3 separate regions of the Homo sapiens genome follow, and all the other regions are linked to region 1. Evidence: fine-mapped QTL for protein levels in blood plasma. Region 1 holds a variant in brackets. A gene starts in each other region. All regions are shown on their reverse strands.

Region 1 (8,185 bases):
GGGGGGAGACCCCTCGGCTGCTTCAGGGACAGGCGCCCAGTGGGGCCGGGCCGGCCTCGTGATTCCCATTCCGGCCCTGGGGATGGACTGCTCCTTAACGGGCACCAGGGAAGGAGTCTGTCCTCGAAGCCTGCAGGTCCTGCCTCCTCCCAGGGCCTCACCCCGGCACTCTGGCCCCCACCCCCAGGTCTTCAAGAACCCCAAGTTCAGCATTCTGACCGTGAACAATGACATCACCCTGCTGAAGCTGGCCACACCTGCCCGCTTCTCCCAGACAGTGTCCGCCGTGTGCCTGCCCAGCGCCGACGACGACTTCCCCGCGGGGACACTGTGTGCCACCACAGGCTGGGGCAAGACCAAGTACAACGGTGAGGGGCCGCGGGGCTGCCTCTGGGGTCTGGGCTGCCTGGCCGTGGAGTCCCCCCGTGACCGTTTGGCTCTAAATTCCAACACGCTCCTAACTGCCCGTTCGTTATTGAAAATCTTCTGAATTTAAAATCCCCCAAATGCAAATAAAATCCAGGTCGGATCATGAGGAGCCTGCACAGGGAGCTTCTGAGCAGCGCCCGGCCGGGTGAGCCCTGCCCTGGCTGACCTGCCTGGAGTCGCAGCGTGGGGCTCCCACCCGGGCAGGGCCGAGGCCCCCTTGTCCCACAGGCGCTTCTGAGGCTCCAGGGGCCGTACCCAACATCGTGGTGATGGTGCAGGGTAGGGCAGGCGTGTCGGCCCCGGGTCTCTCCCTCCACTCTTGGCTGAGTGAGCCCAGGGGCCCTGACCCTCCTCCTGTCCTGCAGCCAACAAGACCCCTGACAAGCTGCAGCAGGCAGCCCTGCCCCTCCTGTCCAATGCCGAATGCAAGAAGTCCTGGGGCAGGAGGATCACCGACGTGATGATCTGTGCCGGGGCCAGTGGCGTCTCCTCCTGCATGGTGAGGCTGGCCCTGCCCAGGCCCTGGCCAGGCGAGCGGGGTGCAGGGGAGGTCTGGGCTTTCCACCCCTCTCTGCTCTCATCTACTAACCCCACACCCTCCTGGGGCCCAGTGAGGGCCAGGCCTTGGGGTCACAGCCGCCCATGAGGGTTCCTCCAGGCCATGCAGCTGAGGCTGCCCCTGGGGACTTCCTTGCAGCCCTGTGAGCTGGAGGTTTGGAGAGATGGATGGTGCCCCGGCTTAGAGAGGGAAGCCACCTGCCCCAGCTCCCTCCAAGAGTGCATGGCAGAGTGGGGGCTGCCATGTGAACCCAGATCTCAGGACCCCGGCACAGCCCCTATGCCCATGCTTACCATTTCTCCGCACCCCTCCCTAGACTCCACCAGGTCAGGGTCCCCTAGGCCCTGGCACCCCTTTCAGGCCTAGAGATACTTCCTCTCCTTCCTGCAGGGTGACTCTGGAGGCCCCCTGGTCTGCCAGAAGGACGGAGCCTGGACCCTGGTGGGCATTGTGTCCTGGGGCAGCCGCACCTGCTCTACCACCACGCCCGCTGTGTACGCCCGTGTCGCCAAGCTCATACCCTGGGTGCAGAAGATCCTGGCCGCCAACTGAGCCCGCAGCTCCTGCCACCCCTGCCTTAAGATTTCCCATTAAATGCATCTGTTTAGAAGCCCTGACTGCACTGCCTGTGTCTGTGTGGCCCAGGGGAGGTGGGCTTGAAGTTGTCCTTGTCACCCACAAAGGGGCAGCACTACCGTTCCCTTTCCAGGCTGCAGTTAATGTTGGCAACCCAGCCTTCTCAGGAAGCTGAGGTCTTCATATCTCTTGCCTGCTCACGGCTCCACCCTGGGTTTAGAATTTAGGCCCTACCTGCTGAAGCTAGCTTGACCCGTGGGGCTTTCTGGAAGGCAGCAGTCCTTGGCCAGGCTCTGCAATCCATAGCCCCCTGGAGTTGTCACTGGGACCACTGCTGACCCACACACTCCAGGTGCCTTTCTCTGCCTTTAGTCCCCCATGTCCAGTGCTCAGGAATGTGCATGCAAGCATCACCCCCTCCCCCGTCAGACCCCAGCCCCTCACACCTTCTGCATCCACTGCTGGGAGCTGGCGCCACTGTCCTCTCAGCTCCCACACTCTTCCCCGCCTCCCTCTCTGCATTTTCTGTGACCCTGCAGTTAGACTTTTTTTTTTTTTTTTTTTTTTTTTTTTGAGACAGAGTCTTGTTCTGCTGCCTAGGCTGGAGTGCAGTGACATCTTGGCTCACGGCAACCTCTGCCTCCTGGGTTCAAGCCATTCTTCTGCCTCAGCCTCTCAAGTAACTGGGATTATAGGCACTCACTACCACGCCCGGCTAATTGTTGTATTTTCAGTAGAGATGGGGTTTCACTATGTTGTTCAGACTGGTCTCAAATTCCTGACCTCAGGTGATCTGCCTGCCTCGGCCTCCGAAAGTGCTGGGATCATAGGCATGAGCCACCGCGCTCGGCCTCTGCAGTTAGATCTTGAGGCTTCCTCACGCTCAGCTTCCATCACTTCGGCCAGGCCATGGAGGGGGCCGGTTCCTTTCCCAGGATGTGTCCGGATTGGCGGTCTCTCTCTCTCTGGAAACTTTTAGTCTTTCCTTTAATGCAGTGAAAATTTTGTTGGAGAAAATTCTCCTGTTGTTCCACTGTCTGAAAAGATATTTATTCATTTTGATCTTGTAAAAGTTGCCTGTCACTCTGAAAAATAATTTTTGTTGAGACGTGCATGTGGGTATGTACATGGATATTTGGACTTGGAAGGTGTTTCAGTGTCTCCTGGCTTCTGTTGATTCGTGGAGAAGTCAGTGATTTACTGTTGCTTTTTAAAAAGGTTTAATGGATTTTCTTTGGATGCTTTTAAGATTTTACCTTTGATTTTCGTTGGTTTACCAAGATGCTTAGTTTCTTAGTTTCCTTGACTCAGCCTGCATGGGGTTCTTAGACAGTCTTTTTTAGAGTCTTGCTTTCTTGCCCAGGCAGGAGTGCAGAGGTTCGCTCTCAGCTCACTGTAACATCCATCTCTCAGGTTCAAGTGAGTCTCGTGTCTCGGCCTCCCAGGTAGCTTGGAGTACAGGCCTATGCTACCATGCCCGGCTAACTTATTTTATTATTTTTTTTTTGAGATGGAGTTTTGCTCTTGTTGCCCAGGCTGGAGTGCAATGGCGCTTTCTCGGCTCACTGCAACCTCCACCTCCTGGGTTCAAGAGATTCTCCTGCTTTAGCCTCTTCAGTAGCTGGCATTGTAGGCGTGAGCCCCCACACCCAGCTATTTTTTGTATTTTTAGTAGAGAGGAGGTTTCACCATGTTGGTCAGGTTGGTCTCAAACTCCTGACCTCAGGTGATCCACCCGCCTCGGCGTCCTCAAGTGCTGGGATTAGGCGTGAGCCACCGCGCCCAGCCTCTGAGTGCTTTTTATCATGAAGGGTGTTGGATCTTGTCAAAGGCCTTTTCTGCATCAATTTAAGTGATCACGTGATTTTCCCCTTTCATTCAATTAATGCATATTACGCTGATGGATTTTCTTGTTATTTCCTATAGCGCTTGGCATGCTGGGATAACTCCCACTTCATCATGGTGTATAATCCTTTTAATATGCTGTCGGGTTCAGTTTGCTAGTACTTTATTGAAGGTTTTTGCATCTATATTCATGAGAGATACTGGTTGGTAATTTTCTTCTGATGTTTTTATCTGGCTTTTGTATCAGGGTAATGCTGGCTTCCTAATCTGTATGTATCCATTTGTGATTTTTTAACATCACAAATTTAGATACTCAGCTCAGTAATTTTCAGTGTGTTCTTTTCTCATAAAAGTATTTCAGGAGGCAAGCTTTCCTCCAAACACTGCTTTCATTGTATTTTTTTTTTTTTTTTTTTTGAGATGGAGTCTTGCTCTTATGCTCAGACTAGAATGCAGTGGCATGATTTCTGCTCACTGCAACCTCTCCTGAGTTCAAGTGATTCTCCCTCCTCAGCCTCCCAAATAGCTGGGATTACAGGTGTCCACCACCATGCCTGGCTAATTTTTGTATTTTTAGTAAGAACAGGGTTTCACCATGTTGGCCAGGCTGGTCTCAAACTCCTGACCTCAACTGATCCACCTACCTCGGCTTCCTAAAGTGCTGAGATTACAGGTGTGAGCCACCACACCTGGCCTTTTTTATTGCAATTTGATACACACTTTATAGTTCTAAGTCTTTTTCATTTCCTCCCCTGTACAGTGCCTCGGCATGACCCACTTTATCCTGAGGGCACCTGCAGGCCAGGGGCAGGCACCCATTGCCCCAAAGCCCTGGAGCTGGGTCGGAAGCAGAGCAGAACCCTGGTGCTCACTTCCTGTTTTTTCCTTGCACAGCCGAGTTCACAGCCTTCTGCCTTGGGCCACAGCTCTAGCCTCCCCACGTAACCACAGGTTCCGATCTTTGCTTCTTCTCCCAGGTCTTCCTGTCTCTTGATGTTTCCCTCTAAAGATCCATCATGGGCTGGGAATGGTGGCTTACGCCTGTAATCCTAGCACTTTTGGGGGCCGAGGAGGGCAGATCATGAGGTCAGGAAATTGAGACCATCCTGGCCAACATGGTGAAACCCCATTGCTATTAAAATACAAAAATTAGCCAGGTGTGGTAGTGGGTGTCTGTAGTCCCAGCTACTCAGGAGGCTGAGGCAGGAGAATCGCTTGAACCCAGGAGGCAGAGGTTGCAGTGAGGCGAGATCTTGCCACTGCACTCCAGCCTGGTGACAGAGTGAGACTCCATCTAAAAAAAATCTATCATGGCTG[G/T]TCCTGGGGGGCAGCCAACATTCCACACTAACCCGGCATCTTGGCAGGAATGGAATGGGCTCCCTCCTGCATTTTCTACTTCACTGGCTTTCCTAATACCTTTCTCTGCCCGTGCACTGTCAGCCGTTCTGATGATGCGTCTAATAGGTTGGAATTAAGGTTATAGATGGAATTTAATTATAAGGACATGAAGAGAAATTAACTTGGAGAATGGATGTGTGAAGAGGGGAAAAGCAAAATGAGAGAGAGCTTGGGCACAGGAGTGGGATCCAAAGTCGACTATTAAAAATAGTATCAAGCCGGCCGGGCGCAGGGGCTCACACCTGTAATCCCAGCACTTTGGGAGGCAGAGGCAGGCGGATCATCTGAGGTCAGGAGTTCGAGTCCAGCCTGGCCAACATGGTGAAACCCCCATCTCTACCAAAAATACAAAAATTAGCCAGGCGTGGTGGCACATGCCTGTAATCCCAGCTACGCAGGAGGCAGAGGCACAAGAATTGCTTGAACCCAGGAGGCAAGAGGTTGCAATGAGCCAAGATGGTGCCACTGCACTCTTGCCTGGGCAACAGAGTGAGACTGTCTCAAAAAAAAAAAAAAAAGCAGAGGCGGGTGGATTGTTTGAGGCCAGGAGTTTGAGACTAGCCTGGGCAACATAGTGAGACTCCTTTAAAAAAAAGAAAAAGTAGCTGGGTGCAGCGGGTGGCACCTGTAATGTGCTGCTCAGGAGGCTGGGGCATGAGGATCACTTGAGCCCAGGAGTTCGAGGCTGCAGTGAGCTATGATCACACCACTGCACTGCAGCATGGGTGACAGAGCAAGACCCTGTCACCCTGTCTTTCTCTGTGTGTGTGTGTGTGTATTTTTTTTTCTTTTTTTGAGATGGAGTCTTACTCTGTTGCCCAGGCTGGAGTGCAGTGGTGCAATCTCAGCTCACTGCAACCTCTTCCTCCCAGGTTCAAGCAATTCTCCTGCCTCAGCCTCCTGAGTTGCTGGGATTACAGGTGCATGCCACCATGCCCAGCTAATTTTTGTATTTTTAGTGGAGACATGTATTTCACCATGTTGGTCAAGCTGGTCTCGAACTCCTGACCTCAGGCGATCCACCCACCTCGGCCTCCCAAAGTGCTGGGATTACAGGTGTGAGCCACCGCGCTGGGTGTCTCTATATATAATTAGAGCCACCGCGCCCAGTCTCTCTCTATATAATTAAGAGCCAGGTTTCTTAAGGAAACTCCCAGCTCAGTGAGGGAGAACTGCTCTTAAACACAGAGGAAATTACATGTATTTTATTATGTCAACAACCATCTACATACAAATAAATGTGAGGCGTAAGTAATATAAAAATGGAATAGCAAGCACAAACCTGGCTAAGGGACTTTTTCACTTGCTGGTGAAATCTGCGTCTGTCCCCCGCTCCACCCACCGGCCTCCCAAGAGTCTGAAAACCACCCGGTATAAGGCTGCCACCTGGTGGCCAATATGAAAACTGCATATAGCTATGCCTTACTGTTCCTAACCCAGCGTTGTTTCAAAGAAATACAAAAGAAATACAAGGCGAGCCAAATGGATGATTTTAAATTTTCTGGTAGCCCTACTGAAAAAGTAAAAAGAGGCCGGGCACGGTGGCTCACGCCTGTAATCCCAGCACCTTTGGGAGGCTGAGGCGGGCGGATCGCTTGAGCCCAGGAGTTCGAGACCAGTCTGGGCAACATAGTGAGACCCTCTTCTCTACAAAAAAAAAATGCAAAAATTAGCTGGGTGTGGTGGTGAGACCCTGTCTCTTAAAAAAAAAAAAAAAAAAAAGAGGGACTGGCGCGGTGGCTCACGCCTGTAATCCCAGCACTTTAGGGGGCCGAGACAGGCGGATCACGAGGTCAGGAGATGAGACCATCCTGGCTAACACGATGAAACCACGATGAAACCCCGTCTCTACTAAAAATACAAAACAATTAGCCGGGTGTGGTGGCGGGCACCTGTAGTCCCAGCTACTCAGGAGGCGGAGGCAGGAGAATAGCATGAACCCGGGAGGCGGAGCTTACAGTGAGCTGAGATCTCGCCACTGCACTCCAGCCTGGGCGACAGAGCAAGACTCCGTCTCAAAAAAAAAAAAAAAAGAAAAAAGAATTTTAATAATATATTTTATTTAACCCAATATATCTACATATTTCAACATGTAATCAGTATTTTAAAATTATTAATGATATATTTTACACTCTTACACTCTTTCAAACCTAGTGTGTAATTTGCACTTCCATCACATCTCCACCTGGATGCTACATTTTCATGAGAAATACTCGATCTGCATTTACATCTTGTAAAACTTACAGTTGAAAAGGTAGACTCACACCCAAATTGTCCCAAATATGCTTAAAAGCTTCCAATTATGTGTTATATTGACAAGTACAGTTAAGCAAAAGGCTGAGTTTAATCAGGGGTCGCACTTGATTTAATCTCAGCTTAAAAACAGATTCCTCCTCGGGCGGGGGTTCCCCCACCCTTGGTCTGAGTTAGACCACGTTAAACAGTGCACGCGCCTCTCCCCGCCCATCGGGTGATCTGGCTTTCTACTAACAGAAACGTCTGGAGCAGTCGCAAGAGAATCCTGTCTCGGACCAGCCTGCATCTGTACCTAATCTAGTGGTTGCGTGATTAGCCACCCAGATTCCCTCCAGGACTGCAGGCCGACCTCCCCACGCGCTGCTGTGGACAGCAGACAGTCCGCAGCTGCCGTCCTCTTTGGGAGTTTCCTCAGCTGAAGAGCATCATCTTGACCTCGGGTCCTGCCTCCTTTCTGGGCAGCTGCATCCAGTGATTGGTCAGTAGGGTTTTTTAAAGGTCCAGTCTTTTCACCCAAACTTGGGACGATGTTGAGGCTCTATCTTCCTCTGCCCAACATTGCTCTTTCCCTACCCCTACGAGTCTTCGGTTCCAAAGGTATTGCTCCTGGGGTACCAGTAAACTTCTGTGTGGTCATCTTTATCTCAGAGTCTACTTCCTGTGGGGAGCTCCAGCTATGATCGTGTGTGCCGGGAGTGAGCTGCAAAATGCGGATGCTGAGGTGGGATTCTGGAGCTGGACTGCTGACTACCAGGCTGGCAGTGAGGACCTCTTCATGGTTGGTAGAGGAAGCGTAGATAGGTCGGGCACACGGTAGCAATGAGGTTGTGAAAGCTTCCACTGCTGATGAAATGCAATGGTATTCTGGGGAACACTATCCACTAGTGGGTGCCCTGTGTCAGGAGTTTGAGGTATGAGGGGAGAGAATACCTATAGAACGTAGGGCCAGGAGCAGCGGCTCGCGCCTGCAATCCCAGCACTTTGGGAGGCTGAGGTAAGAGAATTGCTGGAGCCTAAGAGTTCAAGACCAGCTTGGGCAACATAGCAAGACCCACGTCCCCATAAAAAATAAAAATTAGCCAGGTGTGGTGGTGTAGTCCCTGCTACTTGGGAGGCTGAGGC
Region 2 (8,185 bases), not on the chromosome of region 1:
GTTTCGTTTTGTGTTTAATCCAAATATATAAAGATGCCACTATACTGTAAAGTCATTCAATGTTTACTTTTTAATTTCATATGCTTTGGTTGGTGTTTAAAGTGTTCCTAGGTCCAGCTCCAAATTTATTCCACTTTACTTTCTTTCACATATTTTATGCTTCTTTTAAATTGTACTGAATTATTCAGAGTTATTCTAATAGTAGTTATTATTTTTCCTTTTTTTTTTTTTTTTTTTTTTTTAGACAGAGTCTCTCTCTGTTGCTTGGGCTGGAGTGCGATGGCTTGATCTCGGCTCACTGCAAACTCTGCCTCCTGGGTTCAAGCAATTCTCCTACCTCAGCCTCCCGAGTAGCTGGCCTCCCGAGTAGCTGAGATTACAGGCGCCTGCCACCATGCCTGGCTTATTTTTTTGTATTTTTGGTAGAGACGGGGTTTCACTAAATTGGCCAGGCTAGTCTCGAACTCCTGACCTCAGGCAATTCACCTGCCTCGGCCTCCCAAATTGCTGGGATTATAGGCGTGAGCCACCGTGCCCGGCCTTTTTTTCCATGCTTTATTCACCTTGTTTCCTCCAGTTGACACTTCCTATCCAACCCTTGCCAATTCTTCCCCACCTCCATGTTTCTTATTCTCAATTAAAGTCCTATCTGGAATTCAAGACCTACCTCAAATAAGTACCTAATTCTTAAAGCTTTTTAAAAAATCTTTATATATTGTTATAATATCTTTTACATGTTTATACACAGTTTGCATTGCTTATATTCTCTTGGAATGATATCTTATTGTATATGATGTTTTGGTTATTTGGGTACTGCTTCTAGTTTCCACCAATTGGAAGAAAGGTTGTGACTTAGTCATATTTGTGCCTCATTTATGCCTCAACACAGAACATTGTGTATAATAGACATTCAATAAGCATTTGTTTAAATAATAAAATTATGCAAAATGCCAAAATTATTTTCTAGAATGTATGGCACAATTTCCTCCTACTTCTCACTGATGCGCAATATAACCACTCATGGAAATAATTTGGTTCTTTTTTTTCCTAAAACTGCAAACCCCTATGGACGTGATTATAGATGCGCTTGTTTATTCATGCAGACAGTCAAACTGTGTTTTGACTATTTTAATTGCCTTATTTCAATACAGAATAATTTTTTCTTGGCTCTTTATGTCTTGATAGCTGTTAAGTAGATTAAAAAACAAAAATGGAAAACAGGAACTTCTATAATCCTCTACCCTTAGAATGGTGGATTTCTATTAAGATATATGCATTAAAAGAACAAACTCTACCAAAATTTAACTTTTAGATGTAAATTGCAGTAAACAGAATAGCAGAAGCTTAGAGAAAATTTTTCCAAATACACTCTGTGTTTTAGAAACAAAGATTTTTAGAAAAAGCAAAATTTGAGAATTTTCTCCCCACTATTTCATTTAAATAGGTCTCTTAACAAATATAATTCACTTGTGATTTTCCTCATCATTTTGTAGCTTTGAAAGCTGTATTTGATGAGAAAAACCTGTTTCCCAAGGAAATTCTGCATCATGAACGAAAAGCCAAGCAATTATGCCAAGAAAAAAGTTGTGAAGTGAAGAAAAATAAGAAGTAATTACAACAGAAAAACCTTCACTGTTACATAAGGTACAGATATAAAATGCAGAAAAAGCATCAAGAATTCTGCCTTTTATTTTATTTTATATTTAAACTTCAGGAAGTTTTCTCTTCATGGGATAATTTAGTACTGCTTTTATCTATCATCTGTCAATTTCTCTGTATTCTTAATAAAATAAATATTGAACTAAAGTGGGAGCAACATCTTGGTATTTATTCTCAAGGATTTTTATATAAAAACTTTATGATTCCAGAACAAAGTTCTAACCAGTTGCCCTTCTGGTTGTTCCTATAGACAAACACTTTTGATCAGTTTTCATTGTAAAACCTGCATTGAAATATATGAAAAGTACTGACGGAGTAAATATCTACAAATGTGAATAAGAAAACTGTTTCCACTTTTTTACACTTTCTAGTAGTTTTTAAATGATTCTCATAATGGTGATTAGACTTTGTCAATAGCACCACTTCCTGTTAATTCTTATTGGCTTTTATTCATTCTATAAACTTATTGGAAAATTACTGCATATGATCTACTTCAATAGTTTGTTATACTGTACTTTAAAATTGAATGCCATAGCACATTGAAGATGTAATAGTCTTGAAAAAAAATCAAAGGGCCTGGGGCTATATAAAGGACCCACTCTATGTGGAAAGTCAAGTGGGAAATATTTGGTTCTTTAACTTACTGCCTCTGTTTGTTGACCCATTTTTATTTACAAATATAATCATCTTCCAGGCAATATTATTATTCTGCTTTATTTATTGTGTCCTATAGAAAGAATTGGTAAATTCATTTACATAACTATAATGACTTACTGTATATTTATATTTTAAAGAGTGCTTTCAAAACCAGCTAAAGTTTAAGAAGAATTTTTCAATAACACATGTAGTAAAGGAAAATAATTTGCAATAGGTAGGGGACCACTTGGTATAGCAACTGCAAATGTCCATTGTGTTTAAACCACACAATAATCATATGAATATATTAGCTTAGAGCTAAAATATGAGATGCGAATCTATTAGGAGAGTGCTCAATTATCAATGGCAGAGTTGAGATTGGAACCCAGGTCTGTTTTACTCCCAAACCATGGTATTTGCCATTCATCATTCTGTACACTTGCTTCTTATTAGTATAAAGCCAATGGAATGAATTCTAACACTAGACTTTCCAGCACCAGTGGAGCAAATATTTTGGTTTGGTGGAGAAGGCGGTGATGGAAGGACTTTCAGAAGACAGCTGCCTATTCTAACTACATTTAAGTGTATTCTGAGTTAGGCATTATGACTTCTATTCATATCGCCTTTCCTCCTCATGGAATGAAAATTACATGCAGGAAAGATTGTAGGAGAAAAGTATATTTGTCTCTGTGTGTGTGTGCGTGTGTGTTTGTCTGTTGGGTGGTGTGATGATGTACAAGAAGTGTCCTTGTTTTAGAAAAATATAATAATAGAATGTTTAAGTATGATAGAAATTATGTTTTTAGCTTGCTATAAAATGATTCAGAAAATACTAATTATATGTATATATAAAATGTATATATATGCACACACAGGTAACACATATACATATCTATATTTACATCTGTTTGCTTATTGGGAGGATAGATACATAGATGAAACACACACATGCGGTAGATGCTAACAATTGGGGAAAGAGGAGGAGGTGGAGATAGCAGTTCTTTGAACTATATCTGCAACTTTTATGTAAATTTGAAAGTATTTCAAGGTAAATTTTTTTAAAATATAAAAAGTTGCTTTTGAACAAAAAGATTATTTGAGATGTTCAAGCAGACACTGGGTAACTGTCTCACGGGGATATTGCAAAGACTTCTTGCACTGGGTAGGAGGTTTGACTGGGTAATCCATCATTTCAAACTCAGAGCACATGATTTATGAATCATAGGTTGGTGATAGTACAATGGAGTGAAATCTGAGCCACATGCCCAGAAATTTAATGGAATGTTAAGATGTTATAAAAGTAGAATGCGGGTACCAAATAATTTGCAAAGGCTCTTTTCCCCACTGATCCGTCCATCCCTCATGTAAGTATTGAAGGCATGTATAAGAGATTATTTTAGGTTCCGGGTATTCACATATAAATAGAATGCACCTTTTCTACCCTCAGCGTTCTGAAGTGAAGCTATATAAAATGTAGTGGTTTATTAAGCCAATACTAAATGAGCCCACTGGCATAAGTTGGAAATTCATAATCTGGCATATTTTTTCCAGTCTAATTTGGGAATTCTTTTGCTAGATATACTTTACTGTTTACCCTTGAAGATAACTTTGTTTGATGTGATAGCCTGAGATAGTCTGGTTCATACAGACAGACCTTCTCTCTATAGCCTACTACATGTGCATGGTATTATGCTGTAACTCTAATTCCATCCTTAATTAACATCAGGGCTTCTTCTGTAAAAGGAATTAAGAAGAGCTGTCTCATAAATATATTCAATGAGAAGAGAACTTTTAAAGGTATGAGACTTTCAAGGTAACTGTTTCTAATAATTTGGAGAAAAAACACAAAAAGAAGAAAAAAGACAATGTCTTTTTTTCTGTGTCTTACTCTTCTTTTGTAACTCACAGCATCTAATTTTCTAGGCAGGTAGCAGGATCTCACCTGTCAACTCTTAACAGAACTGAAGGCATTATAAACTGTTTCTGAAATTAACATTCAGATTCAATTACTTATGATCCATTTTTCTGTGGTAAAAGGAATTGGTCACATTAAAATAGGATATGTCATAATTTTCAATAGGCTACCTTGTTTGTATTACTTATATTTACACTAAATATAATTTAACATTTTCTTTTGTCAGAACATTTTCCTATTATCACTCAAAATTTAGGAACAATCTTACCAAAAAAAATTGCCTGAAATGAGTCCATGCTTAAATGGAAGAATTAACTTTTAAGTTCTTTACTGATGAGGGCATTTGCTTATACATTTTTAAAGTTTGGAATTAAGTGCACTTTTACTTGAAAAAACTATAAAAGGATAAGAAAATTGATGAGATGATAACTGTAACCCTTTGCTGTGGTTTTTATATATATTCCTAGGCTTATACTTTACAGTCGGACAGTAATGGCGATCAACCTTCTACCAAGACACGTTGGCTCTCATTAATGAATAATTCTCCCCCCACCCCGATTTTCTAGGAGCAAAATAGAATTGTAGAAAAAAGCGGTTTGGGAAAATATTTTAAAAATTTGTGGTAATATTTTATGGACAATTGTATTGTCGTCATTGTCTATTAAAAGAGGTTAAACCAGGGAGAATAAATTTATGGCTATTGCTTTTTACTCCTCAAGAGACAGGAAAATGAACATTCTGCCTGAACTGCTCTAATATAAGGTCCTTACAGAACAATTTCATTAAATGGTCTTAGTAGGACAGAGTGACGGTCTCTGCCATTGGTAGGAAAAGTAATGGACTATTTCTGGATAAATCACATTGTGATCTGAGCAGTGTACAGACATAATGATGTGGTAGCCAAGGGTACTGGTGATATATGTTTGCTGGTGTCAGTAAATGGGTAGAAAAGCATTGATTGAATGATAGTCTTGACATTCAGACTTAATATTTATGTATTGCAGTGTGAAGCAAGTAGAATGATAGTATTCTTGTATTGCACAACTCTTTTTGGAAAATTATCTCTGTGTTAAGTTAAAGCTACACTAGAGTGTGCTTATGATAGAGTAGGTAATATTAGAATAAAACTCAAGATCTAGAAAACATTTGGAGATGCCTATATGGGAAATCAAAAAATTTTAGTTAATTAGTAGATTATGGCCTATAATGATCTATTCTCAGGCCTATTTTTAAGTTATAGCCATGTTAGGACATGGAAAGATGTTAACAGGGTCCTCTGACAAGTTTTTAAAAATGAATTCCATTTAAAGCTATCTATATTCACTTTATTTCTTTTACATGAGTTTATCAGAAATAGTATTAAATTTGGGGATCAACAGATATTTAATTAAAAGTGAACTAAATTTTTTTTCTCTTCTCAAAGGCTATAGATAAATAATACAATGTGCTTAATATCTGATTGCCATTGAGGTGATTGATTTGAACTACAAAAATGAGATGAAACCCATTAAATTATGCAATTTTTTATTAATGACCTTTTTGCAAAGAAAATCATGTAGAGTTTCAAAAGCACATAAAGGTAACAGCAATTTTTATCATCCAATTACCTATGGCTAATAGTATTGTCCTGATATATTTTGGCAAATCCATTATCTTTTTTGCTGGCCTTTCTGCTCAGAATAAAGAACATATTTCTTCAATATCCACTCTTTTTCTTAAGGATTCAAATGGACCTTATATCCACAGGAAACTCCTCTGACTATTGTATAATTTGATGAATGTTGAGAACTCTGTCAATGCAGCAGTGATTTGTCTCTGTATTCTGGACTTGATTTAGCTTTATTCTTTTTCTCATAGGCATTCTGAAATATTTATGACAAAGTGCATTGGTAATCTGATGTAGGAGTCCTGTGAGAAACAAAAAGAACTAATTACTAGCAAATTTACAACCAGTAGCGCATCCTTTCAAATTCTGTGCAACTTTTAAAAGAAGCAAAATAATGGATAAAATAATAATATAAATTTAATACTTTTAAAAAATTCTATAATTGTTTTTTTCTCAATTCTTGCACATTTCATCAGTTGATCATTAACCCGATTGTGTTAGTTCTTAATACAAATGTAGTGAACACCTGCTTTTGTTCTAGAGGAATTAATCAAGCAATGGTCAAGATAAATGGAGTTGGCCTTGATCGCTCAGGTGTTTATGTACAAGAGTTTTCCAGCAAGCGTATTTTAGTTGTAACATTCCAGTGAATAATCAGAAGTCAGTTTGGGGTAAGTACCTTAGAAATAAATAGCTTTTGAATAAGTATGTATGCAATAACATTGCCTATGAATGTTTAGTAGAGTATGGAATGGCATTTCAATTTACTTTGGTGTAAAAATCATTTGAATTTATTTAATTAACATATCGCTTTTATTCTCCTTAAATGATTTCACCACAAATCAGAAGATCCAGTTCTTATAGGACTATTCATCAGGTTGTTTAGTTCAGCATTACTTTGTGCTTTCTGATAAGATATGATCCAAAACCTGATGAGGTAAGTGAGTTTTTAAAACCAATATTTGTCTGAGGTTATAATTTATTAAGTGCTTAGAAATTTTCTAGAAAAAATGGATGTGGATGCTCAAATAATATAAATTTAATTATTAAGATTATTAATAATAATGAGAAGGAAACTCTAATACTGAGATTCTACCACAAAGAAAAAAATTACATTTTTAATAATACTGTTCATTATTCCAATATAAACCAAATACATAAAGCTATATCTAATGTATTTCCAGTTGATAACTTAAAGGTACTAATAACATTTTGACTACGTATCTACAAACACATATTTTGGTCAGAAGTCTTCTGAGAAATTGAATATATTAGAAGATAATGATACACAGACATTTATTTTGCATGTAAAACTTCTCTTACTCACTGGTTTTTAACTATTGTTGCACTCTCATTTATAAGCTCATATGCTAAATTAATCCCTAATGAAACATTTGCTTGATATTAATAGCATATAGGTCTATATCTAAAGTTTACCAACACATTTTCTAACAATTGCTTTGGATTGTTTTTTGAGGCTTTTGTCTTTTGCAAATATATATCTAAACAAATACAGTTTAACAAAATACATTGAAGGATAAATAATGACTCCATAGTTTAATTTGGAACAATATTTGACTATTAGTAATCTTTATATATAAATATAGTTGTTCTTAGGGACTCCTACCATTTATGGTACCCTTAATGATCTGCAAAACACTCTAGAAATGTAAGTCTCTACTTAAGGCTGACAACAGACTATTCTAAAGGCTTTCATCTTTACCCCTAATTAAGGGTTACTTCCTAGTAACTTACTGATGGATAAGTTTTTAAGGATTACTAACATGTATTATTTATAAGGTAAAATTATTGTTACTAAAATTTATGAGGCCTTGGAGTCAACATTCTACCAAATATGTGGTAATATTGCAAAACTAATTCTGCTTGAGATATAATCAAATGGTTGAATTTCCTGCAATTTTAGTGGAGAGCACTTTAATAGGGTATTATTAGTCTTGTGAATTGTTTATGGTTTTTAATTGCTGCTACTCTTACATTTGTTAGTATTTCTGTCAATTCTTTGATATTATATTTCATTTTATTTATATTTTTTCTTTTATAATTTCAAGTTTTATTACAGATTAATGTACATGTGCAGGTTTGCTACATGGGTATATGGCCTGACACTAAGGTTTGGGGTATAAATGATCTCATCACCCAGGTAGTGAGCATAGTACTTTATTGTATCATTTATATTTGATTGCCATTTTGTTTCAAACTTTGCAGGTTTTCTGCATTGTATTTGTCTTCTTTTGGAAAAGCAGGAAGAGGGCTTTGGGTTATTTTGTCCTAAGAAATAAAGCGTGAGGAAAATTGTAAAAAGTTAGCCAGATTACTCAGTTGCTTTAGAATACATTAATTTTCTAATA
Region 3 (8,185 bases), not on the chromosome of region 1:
TGGAAAATTCTTGGGGCATATGGTACTCCTTCAGCTCCTTTCCTTTCCAGTCTGAAGTTTGCAGACAGGCTGTTATTCACATGCCTGCCAAAAGTTTTAAACAAAAGAGAGATTCTGTCTCCATAATAAGTCTAAAATCTGTTAAAAGGTGGAAAACAGGGAACAGCAGATAGAAGATGGCCAATAGCGCTAAAAATAAGCCATAGTCTTGAAACTCTCTAAGCTTTATTGAGGCGTATCAAGAAATTGCCCCCATTTGGGGATATACTAACACTAGTTATCCAGTTTACCCCTTTCCACCTATGTGAAGACTAACAGAAGAAATAGATAGGAAAGGCCTAAAATCAGCTTCTTAGAACTTTGTAAAACTAGTTCAGGGGACAGGACCTTCAGAATCCTGAGGACAAGGAGATAAATCTTAAAGGATTGGGAAATATGGCTTCCTTGACAAAGGCATCATTTTGGAACCAAAGTGGCTGCCAGTAAATGTCCTCAATTTTACTACCTGGCCTGTGGAATTTGGTCAGTAACCTATGTGAGCAATAACGGTTAGTTATCTAAACGGGCATACAGCTATTGGGGCAATAAACATTTTATGAGAGTTGCGTCAACTGTTATTTGTTTTAAAATGCTTTCATATCGTGCTAGCCACAATGTGTTTTATTATATATTTGAAAGTATTAGATCTTTTGTACCTGAAAAGTCATTGTCTAGTTGAAGTCTTCTTGATGTAAAGAAAAACTCTCATTTAAAAAATTACCACAAATAATTTTTTTGTATTAATTTTTAAAAATTGGCCCAACAGAGTGGCTCCTGCCCATAATACCAGCACTTTGGGAGGCTGAGGCAGGCAGATGGCTTGAGCCCAGGAGTTTGAGACCAGCTTGGGCAACATAGTAAAACACTGTCTCTACTGAAAATACAAAAATTAGCCTGGCGTGGAGGTGTGCGCCTATACTCCCAGCTACTCAGGAGGCTGAGGCGGGAGAACAGTTGAGCCCAGGGGCTCAAGACTGATGTGAGCCTTGTTTGAGCCATTGCACTCTAGCCTAGGTGACAAAGAGAGACCCTGTCTCAAAAATAATGATAATACTACTACTACTACTAATAATTGCTCGTTTGATTTTGGCAAGATAAACTTATGGTAACAAGCATACTAGATTTCTCTTTTCTTCATCCCTTTCTAACTCTGAATAATATGATTGAAATTCTTACAGAAAAAAAAACTCAAATCTTTCTCTGGTTGTAAGCTTTAAAGAAAATTATTTTTAGAAAATGCTGAAATAAATTAGAGTAGTTTGACAAACACTTTTGAACCTGTTAGACTAAACAGTATTAACCTCTGTCATCTATGTTTAAAATGATTATTATAAAGGGACAAAATTATATATTCTCCAGGAAAACAGTAATGTAAACGGTAAAAAGATCCCTGTTCAAAGTTTCCCTTCTTGTTAAAGAATAAATCATAAGTGTTAGAAATAATAGTTTATTTTAAAGACGAACTTCCTTCAAGCCCCCTCGCTTTACGCTAATAACTCTTTGTTAAGCCCTATCTTATATAGCTGTTGAACAGTCACAGGCACGTAGTACATTCCATGTCCTTGTACCTTAACCAAGATATTTGTGTTGGACGTGCTCATAGGTATGTCCTAGTTCACAGCCTGTGCCCCTTCCTTATTTGGAAATATTATTATTTTTGTACCTATTTTAAAAAGTTTTAAATTATTAGCCAATCAGGTTTTAATTTAGATTGTGAGGTCTGGCTCCAGCCAATGGAGACAGGACACAGCAATAGGGACCTCATGCGTAAGGAATAAATATTCTGGTGTCTCTTCATTCTGTGTATGCCCTTGCCATTGTTCCATCTGTGAGGGGCATCCTTTCTGCAGAAATTAAAAATTGCCTCGCTGAGAGAACTTTTTGTCTGAATGCTGACTTTTCCTTGCAGAACTGAGAAACAAACATTTTGCATTTCTAATGAGTATGAAAATTTTTTGTATAGTGTTTTATTACGGATTTATTTTACTTTAAACTACATGTGAATAGATAAAAAAATATAAATAATTAGCTTTTTTAAAGCACATATAAATATTATTAGTTTGTAAATTTTTGCAACTTTTAAAATTCATTTTGTTTATATATGCTTTTGAAATGAGCTCATGTTTATATAAATATATTTAGTTTATTTAATTTAACTCCTGTTAGTATTTCAAAATATATTATTTTGTCATTTATCCCAATTGATATAGCCATCCTTATTTCTGTGAACATTTTGGTTAGTTTTTCAACTGAATTTTAAATTCCAGATTTGCTCTTGTTCCCTGATTCTGAATGGGTATTTAATGGGAATTTCAGTAAGCTTTTAATTTCACATCACTATCTGTAACTTCACAACAACAGACAATTGACTTCAAACCAACAACTTCATATTCCATTACTTTGAGCTTACTTAGGCATCAGCTCCCTGCAGTTCCCACCTGCTTGGACTTTGAGAACATCTGTATCATGCTAGCTACTTATGCTGAAACCTTGCTGGAAACGCTGGCTTAAATTTACGTAACTACTAAACCTTGTGATGTGGTGTGGCTCTGTGTCCCCACCCAAATCTCATCTCAAATTGTAATCCTCATAATCCCCATGTGTGGATTGAGGAACCTAGTGGGAGGTGATTGGATCACGGGAGTAGTTTCCCCCATGCTGTTCTCTTGATAGTGAGTGCATTCTCACAAGATCTGATGGTTTTATAAAGGGCTCTTCCCTCTCCACTCTCTCTTGCTCACCTGCCACCATGTAAGACATGCTTTGCTTCCCCTTCGTCTCCATGATTGTAAGTTTCCTGAGGCCTCCCCATCCTCAGGAAAGTCTGTGAGTCAATTAAACTATGAGTCAATTAAACCTCTTTCCTTTTTAAGTTACCCAGTCTCTGGTATTATCTTTATAGCAGTATGAAAAGGACTAATACACCTTGCCTTCTGAAGTAGGTCTTGAGAGGTTCCTGAACCTGAAAGGGAATGGAGAAATGACTTAAAGCCACCAGCTAATTGGGCTTAATCATTTGGACTCAGTTGACTCTTCCCCTACCCCTACCCATGCCTAAACCAAAGAAAGGATCATCCCACATTTACCTAGCACAAAGAAATCTACTCTTCTGCTCTTTCTAGGACTGCTAAAGGCCATGGGAACTGGACACCTGGATGCTGCAGAGGAAGAGCAAAGCTCAACATCAACTTGGACAGTTTGCCAACCTGTTTGTGGTAAGTTGATGTCATTTGTGACCACTCCTAATGTGTGCCAGGAATAAGCTATTCCTGATGCCAGAATCTCTTACTGTCAGTGCCCTCTGTAGGCCTTCTGATCCTTACTCCTTGCTCCACCCATTGTTTATATCATGTAGTTCTCTCTCAGACCCTGATATAAAGCTCCTACTCTGTCTGACCTGACAAGCCACCTCAAGTGGACAAGGCACTTACCAACAGGTAAAGGGGCATTACAGGAGAAGAGCATGTCTAACGTGGGATTTTCTCTTTTCATTTTGAGGTAGATACAGGGTGATTTTCTGAATAAAAGATCCCAGTAGTAATGAAACTTAAGCAAGACCAAAGCTGATTTCGGGTAATTTGGCCTCTGTTATCCCCAAACCAAAAGAGAAATATCTGGGAGTGTAGCTATCTCAGTGGACCTTTCGGCTCACAGGAATTCAGAGAGGAGAGGATGTTAGAAAGATAACAGGTGCTCTGCTCTCTTCTTCAAACCCTCTTCCCTGTGTTCTCCTACAGAGATTGCTGATTTGCTCCTTAAGCAAGAGATTCACTGCCGCTAAGCATGGCTCAGACCAACTCGTTCTTCATGCTGATCTCCTCCCTGATGTTCCTGTCTCTGAGCCAAGGTGAGATTTTCCCCCACACTTCCCACAACCCCAACTCTGAATTCTTCCCTCCATCCTCATGTATAAGGTTCACTTGAAAAAAAGCAGAGTCAACATCAGGGTTTTTTTATGTTGTTCAGTGATCATTATGGCTGATTTTATCCCATTCAAAAACACCCTCACCTCATTCATGGGTTTGAGACAGAATTTAATAGGACCACTTATAGGTGACCATTGTGGTTGAGTTTATCTGATTGAATCTATATGCGATGGCAGTTTGGGGGATGTTTTTATGTAGTCATTGCTAGGATGGAGAGCTAAGGCAAACGTGTGCAGGGAAACCGAGAGAAACTTGAGAAAGGAGGAAGCCTGGGTCTTTAAAGGCAGAAGCCTCAGCCTCAGAATTAAAGGAAAACGAGGACTCATTTATTTAGCCTATTCATTGTGAGCTCTTGTCTTGAGCAGAGGAAACTAGAGAGAAAAGAGATAGGATGCAGGAGGGCAGAAGTGAGCAATCGCCCCAGTATTCACTGTATCCATATGTTCTTATAAAGGACACCAAGAAGCCCCTAATTCACCTTCCAGCCTTTTCCTTGCCCTGCGATTCTTTCTTAATTATCTCCTTTTTTTTTTCCCCAGGCCAGGAGTCCCAGACAGAGCTGCCTAATCCCCGAATCAGCTGCCCAGAAGGCACCAATGCCTATCGCTCCTACTGCTACTACTTTAATGAAGACCCTGAGACCTGGGTTGATGCAGATGTGAGTGAGGAGAGCAGCAGGGGAAGGGAGGCTTATGAAGGTAGAGGCAGCTGCTAATTTGCAGTGTGTTCTGTGGCTGCAATGAGATAAGATTGATCCCTTCCCTATTCCACCACTGGTCCCAAACTTCCCAATCTACTTTATCCCATCATTTGACACATTCCCAGCACAGAGATGCTGGTGGTCAGTGACAGCATCATCAGGGACATTTCTGTGCTGTCCTTTTTCTGTTACATCCTCTGGAAGGTCTCAGTATATCCCTCACACCTTCCTTCTCCACTGAGTGCTCCATTTTCTTCTCCAACAGCTCTATTGCCAGAACATGAATTCAGGCAACCTGGTGTCTGTGCTCACCCAGGCGGAGGGTGCCTTCGTGGCCTCACTGATTAAGGAGAGTAGCACTGATGACAGCAATGTCTGGATTGGCCTCCATGACCCAAAAAAGGTCAGTCTGCAGCCACCTCTATCTCCTTATAAACATTTTTGAGAGGTAAGAGGGACGTTTAAGGTCTGGCACCGCAATCACCAACTTTTATCTTTTTGTTTGTTTAAATAAAAGCAACCTCTTTATAGATCCTATAATGTATGAGTTGTGAAGTTCAGTGTAGGTAGTTAGAGACATGAGCTGAAGGCTGAATTTTCTGGGCTCTGGGAATTCATGCACCCACTCATTGTGTCTACTTCTAGAAATGCATCTTTATGTACAACTTTTTCCCTATTTTGCTATTGTCTGTCTTGGAAGAGGTCCCTCTGTAGACTATATAGAAAATGAGTAGTGGAGGAGAATCTACTGCTGGCATTTGTTATACATTTTATACAAGTGTATAAAACTGTACAGTATATTATTTAGTTTAACACTATAAACTAAATAATATATCAACGACTACTCTACAGCCAATGTTATGCTGGATATGAGAGTTCTGAGATTCAGGAAAAAAATCAGAAACCACTCTCTTTAATGGGCTTTTATGGGTCTCTGTATCAAATTCTGAACACTTATTATTTGCTGGAAGAGGAGGAGGAATTCGGACATTCTAGAGAAGGAGAAGCTTAGAGCAAAAGCAGAGGAAATGATATGATATTCATGGTGACAACAATGTTTATTCTTTCTGCTATAACTTGGCCTGTTTCTGAGTGTGCACACAGGCCTGGTTATTCTATTGATTTTTGAGTGACCATGGCCCCTGTTCTGGCCCTTCTCCATCTAGAACCGCCGCTGGCACTGGAGTAGTGGGTCCCTGGTCTCCTACAAGTCCTGGGACACTGGATCCCCGAGCAGTGCTAATGCTGGCTACTGTGCAAGCCTGACTTCATGCTCAGGTGAGAGGCAGACAATCTATCCACCTGTTGCCATTTCCTTCCCACTTATCTCTGGGGATGAACATGGGGACTGGGATAGAGGAAAGGTAAGCTCCTTATCTGGAAAATAAAGAAGTATTTCCTCTAGTTTTTTGTTCTGAGTCCTAGGTTGAGGAGGGGCTACACTCCTTCTGATCCTCTATGTCTGACACTTCTCATTGTACCATAGGATTCAAGAAATGGAAGGATGAATCTTGTGAGAAGAAGTTCTCCTTTGTTTGCAAGTTCAAAAACTAGAGGAAGCTGAAAAATGGATGTCTAGAACTGGTCCTGCAATTACTATGAAGTCAAAAATTAAACTAGACTATGTCTCCAACTCAGTTCAGACCATCTCCTCCCTAATGAGTTTGCATCGCTGATCTTCAGTACCTTCACCTGTCTCAGTCTCTAGAGCCCTGAAAAATAAAAACAAACTTATTTTTATCCAGTGTTCTGTCTTCTGCATTTGCTCTTTCTACAGCCCATGCTTGGGTGGTTGGGGTGGGAATGATTGTCACACTCCAGAGCTTGCCATGGCCCATCCACTTGTTAAAACCCCACTCACATTTTATGTATGTCAGGCTTATGAACATGTGGTGGCCTTGTTTATGACAAGATAAAAAGATTAAGATTTCATCCACAACACATGTTAGCATGAACCTAGTGTGAATTACACAAATAATTAAATTGTTGATCCAGTCTGACTGGAGTATTTAATATTCCAGAAGAATTCGCATAGTTGGGGTCTGAGGAGAACACATCTGTTCTTGGTTATGCAATTTGAAGTCATGACTGAAATGATAACTTAAGGAGAATTGTCAGGTCTGCGGTCCTGAGTGCATTAGTGGTACATTTTTGGAGGCCAGCCTGCAAAGTTTGTTAAATGCTACTCCTTGGATGAATGAATAAGTGAATGATCAATTATGTAAATTAAATATACAGGCATACTTAATCATCTCTTTAAATATCCTAACTCTCAATAAAGTTAAATTCTGAAATATTACTCTTAGGACTTTCACAAATTAATTGTGCAGGGACACAGTTCAGCCCATAACATCAATCATATCAATAATAGAGTTAAATGTGATTTGATAACAAAGGAAACAAATTGTCATCCTGGATTAAAGTAACAACAATGAAAACAAGATTCAACTGTATGCTATGTATGAGAGACATGAGTTAAATTAAGACACAAATAGCTTGAAAATAAAAGGAAGGAAATAGACATATCTTGCAAACAGAAACCATAAGAACACTGGTTTCTGTACTGTTACCCAGTGTAATGCCTATATGAGATTGCTGAATTTCTACCCTGTCTGAACTCTGCTTATCTTTAAGAAACAGAATGCCTGTGGTAAAAAGTTTCCTTTATAACTAGTCCAGCTGATACTGGTTAGAATCAAGATCACCATCAAAGGACCTCAGAAAGACATCTGGTTCATTATAATCTCATTTCCATGCTAAATGACACTCCTACCAGCACAATGACAGCTGACAATCACCATGACAATGGCCAGAAGAAGCAATAAAGGTACAAAAAGGAAGCACACTCTGGTTCCTAGGAAGTTCACAACCTATTTCCAGAAAAGACATGAATATTCCTCCCTTTGTTTTTAATGCCCAGTCCTTTCATTGGAGAAACCCTATATTTTAACCACTTTACCCCTCACTAGCAGAGAAGCCAATTTGTGAGTCATGTTCCTGCTTCTCAATTCCATGGCCATCAAATAAATCCTGCAGTGCTTGACACTCACTTTCTGTTTCATGTATTGGCTTTGTGACACCAAATAGGGAAAGACTCCATCTTTTGGGGGACTGGTTTTGTCTGCAATGATACTAATATCAGACATATTTGACTTTAAAGCAAAAATGTTACTTGAGAAGAAAAGGAGTATTTTATAATAATAAAGTAGTTAATTCTTCAGGAAGATGTCTCAAAATACCTGAAACAGGTGGAACCCACTGCAGTGTGACAAAGCCGCTATAACCAGACTGCCCCTCCGGATTCCTCCTCTCTGGGGAGGACATCTCTGAAAGAAAGGCAGCAGCCTCAGTCAGGGGCTTATAGATAAACTCCCATCTCCCTGGGACAGAGCACCTGGGGGAAGGGGCAGCTGTGGGCCAAGCTTCAGCAGACTTAACCTTTCCTGTCTGCTGGCTCTGAAGAGAGCAGCGGGTCTCCTCGCACAGCACGCAAGCTCTGCTAAAGGACAGATTGCCTTCT

Direction of the effects. Positions count from the first base shown, and alleles are read on the strand shown. Strength reflects both the effect of a copy and how common the allele is.
In carriers of allele T in region 1, the plasma level of the protein whose gene starts at base 6,448 in region 2 tends to be lower than with G alone (strong association).
For the plasma level of the protein whose gene starts at base 3,442 in region 3, allele T in region 1 goes with a lower level than allele G (moderate association).

The links. PIP is the chance, under the fine-mapping model, that this variant and not a neighbour inherited with it causes the effect. Protein levels are from antibody-based Olink assays in UK Biobank. Linkage for the fine-mapping came from a reference panel and not from the study's own genotypes, which makes the PIPs less certain.
Region 2: it holds the start of SERPINI2, and the variant in region 1 is fine-mapped to the plasma level of the SERPINI2 protein (UK Biobank, PIP above 0.99).
Region 3: REG1B starts here. The variant in region 1 is fine-mapped to the plasma level of the REG1B protein (UK Biobank, PIP above 0.99).

What each region holds. Positions count from the first base shown.
Region 1 is chr16:75,197,516-75,205,700 of GRCh38, reverse strand. CTRB2 (chymotrypsinogen B2) reads left to right here. Exons shown (of 7, transcript NM_001025200.4): 5 at 188-368; 6 at 795-928; 7 at 1,379-1,598. The coding sequence ends at 1,540. Among named protein-coding and RNA genes, the nearest start is that of CTRB2, 5.6 kb to the left of the region's middle. RefSeq lists enhancers at 4,125-4,204, 6,056-6,350, 7,389-7,889. The variant G/T (reference allele first, on the strand shown) is at 4,727.
Region 2 is chr3:167,472,305-167,480,489 of GRCh38, reverse strand. It overlaps SERPINI2 (serpin family I member 2), which reads left to right and starts at 6,448. Exons shown (of 9, transcript NM_006217.6): 1 at 6,448-6,487. WDR49 (WD repeat domain 49) reads left to right here. Exons shown (of 19, transcript NM_001366157.1): 19 at 1,494-1,806. The coding sequence ends at 1,612. LOC105374197 (a long non-coding RNA gene) reads right to left here. Exons shown (of 3, transcript XR_924683.3): 3 at 6,030-6,118.
Region 3 is chr2:79,083,250-79,091,434 of GRCh38, reverse strand. REG1B (regenerating family member 1 beta) reads left to right here and starts at 3,442. Exons shown (of 6, transcript NM_006507.4): 1 at 3,442-3,476; 2 at 3,777-3,886; 3 at 4,505-4,623; 4 at 4,931-5,068; 5 at 5,832-5,943; 6 at 6,152-6,412. The coding sequence starts at 3,823. The coding sequence ends at 6,219.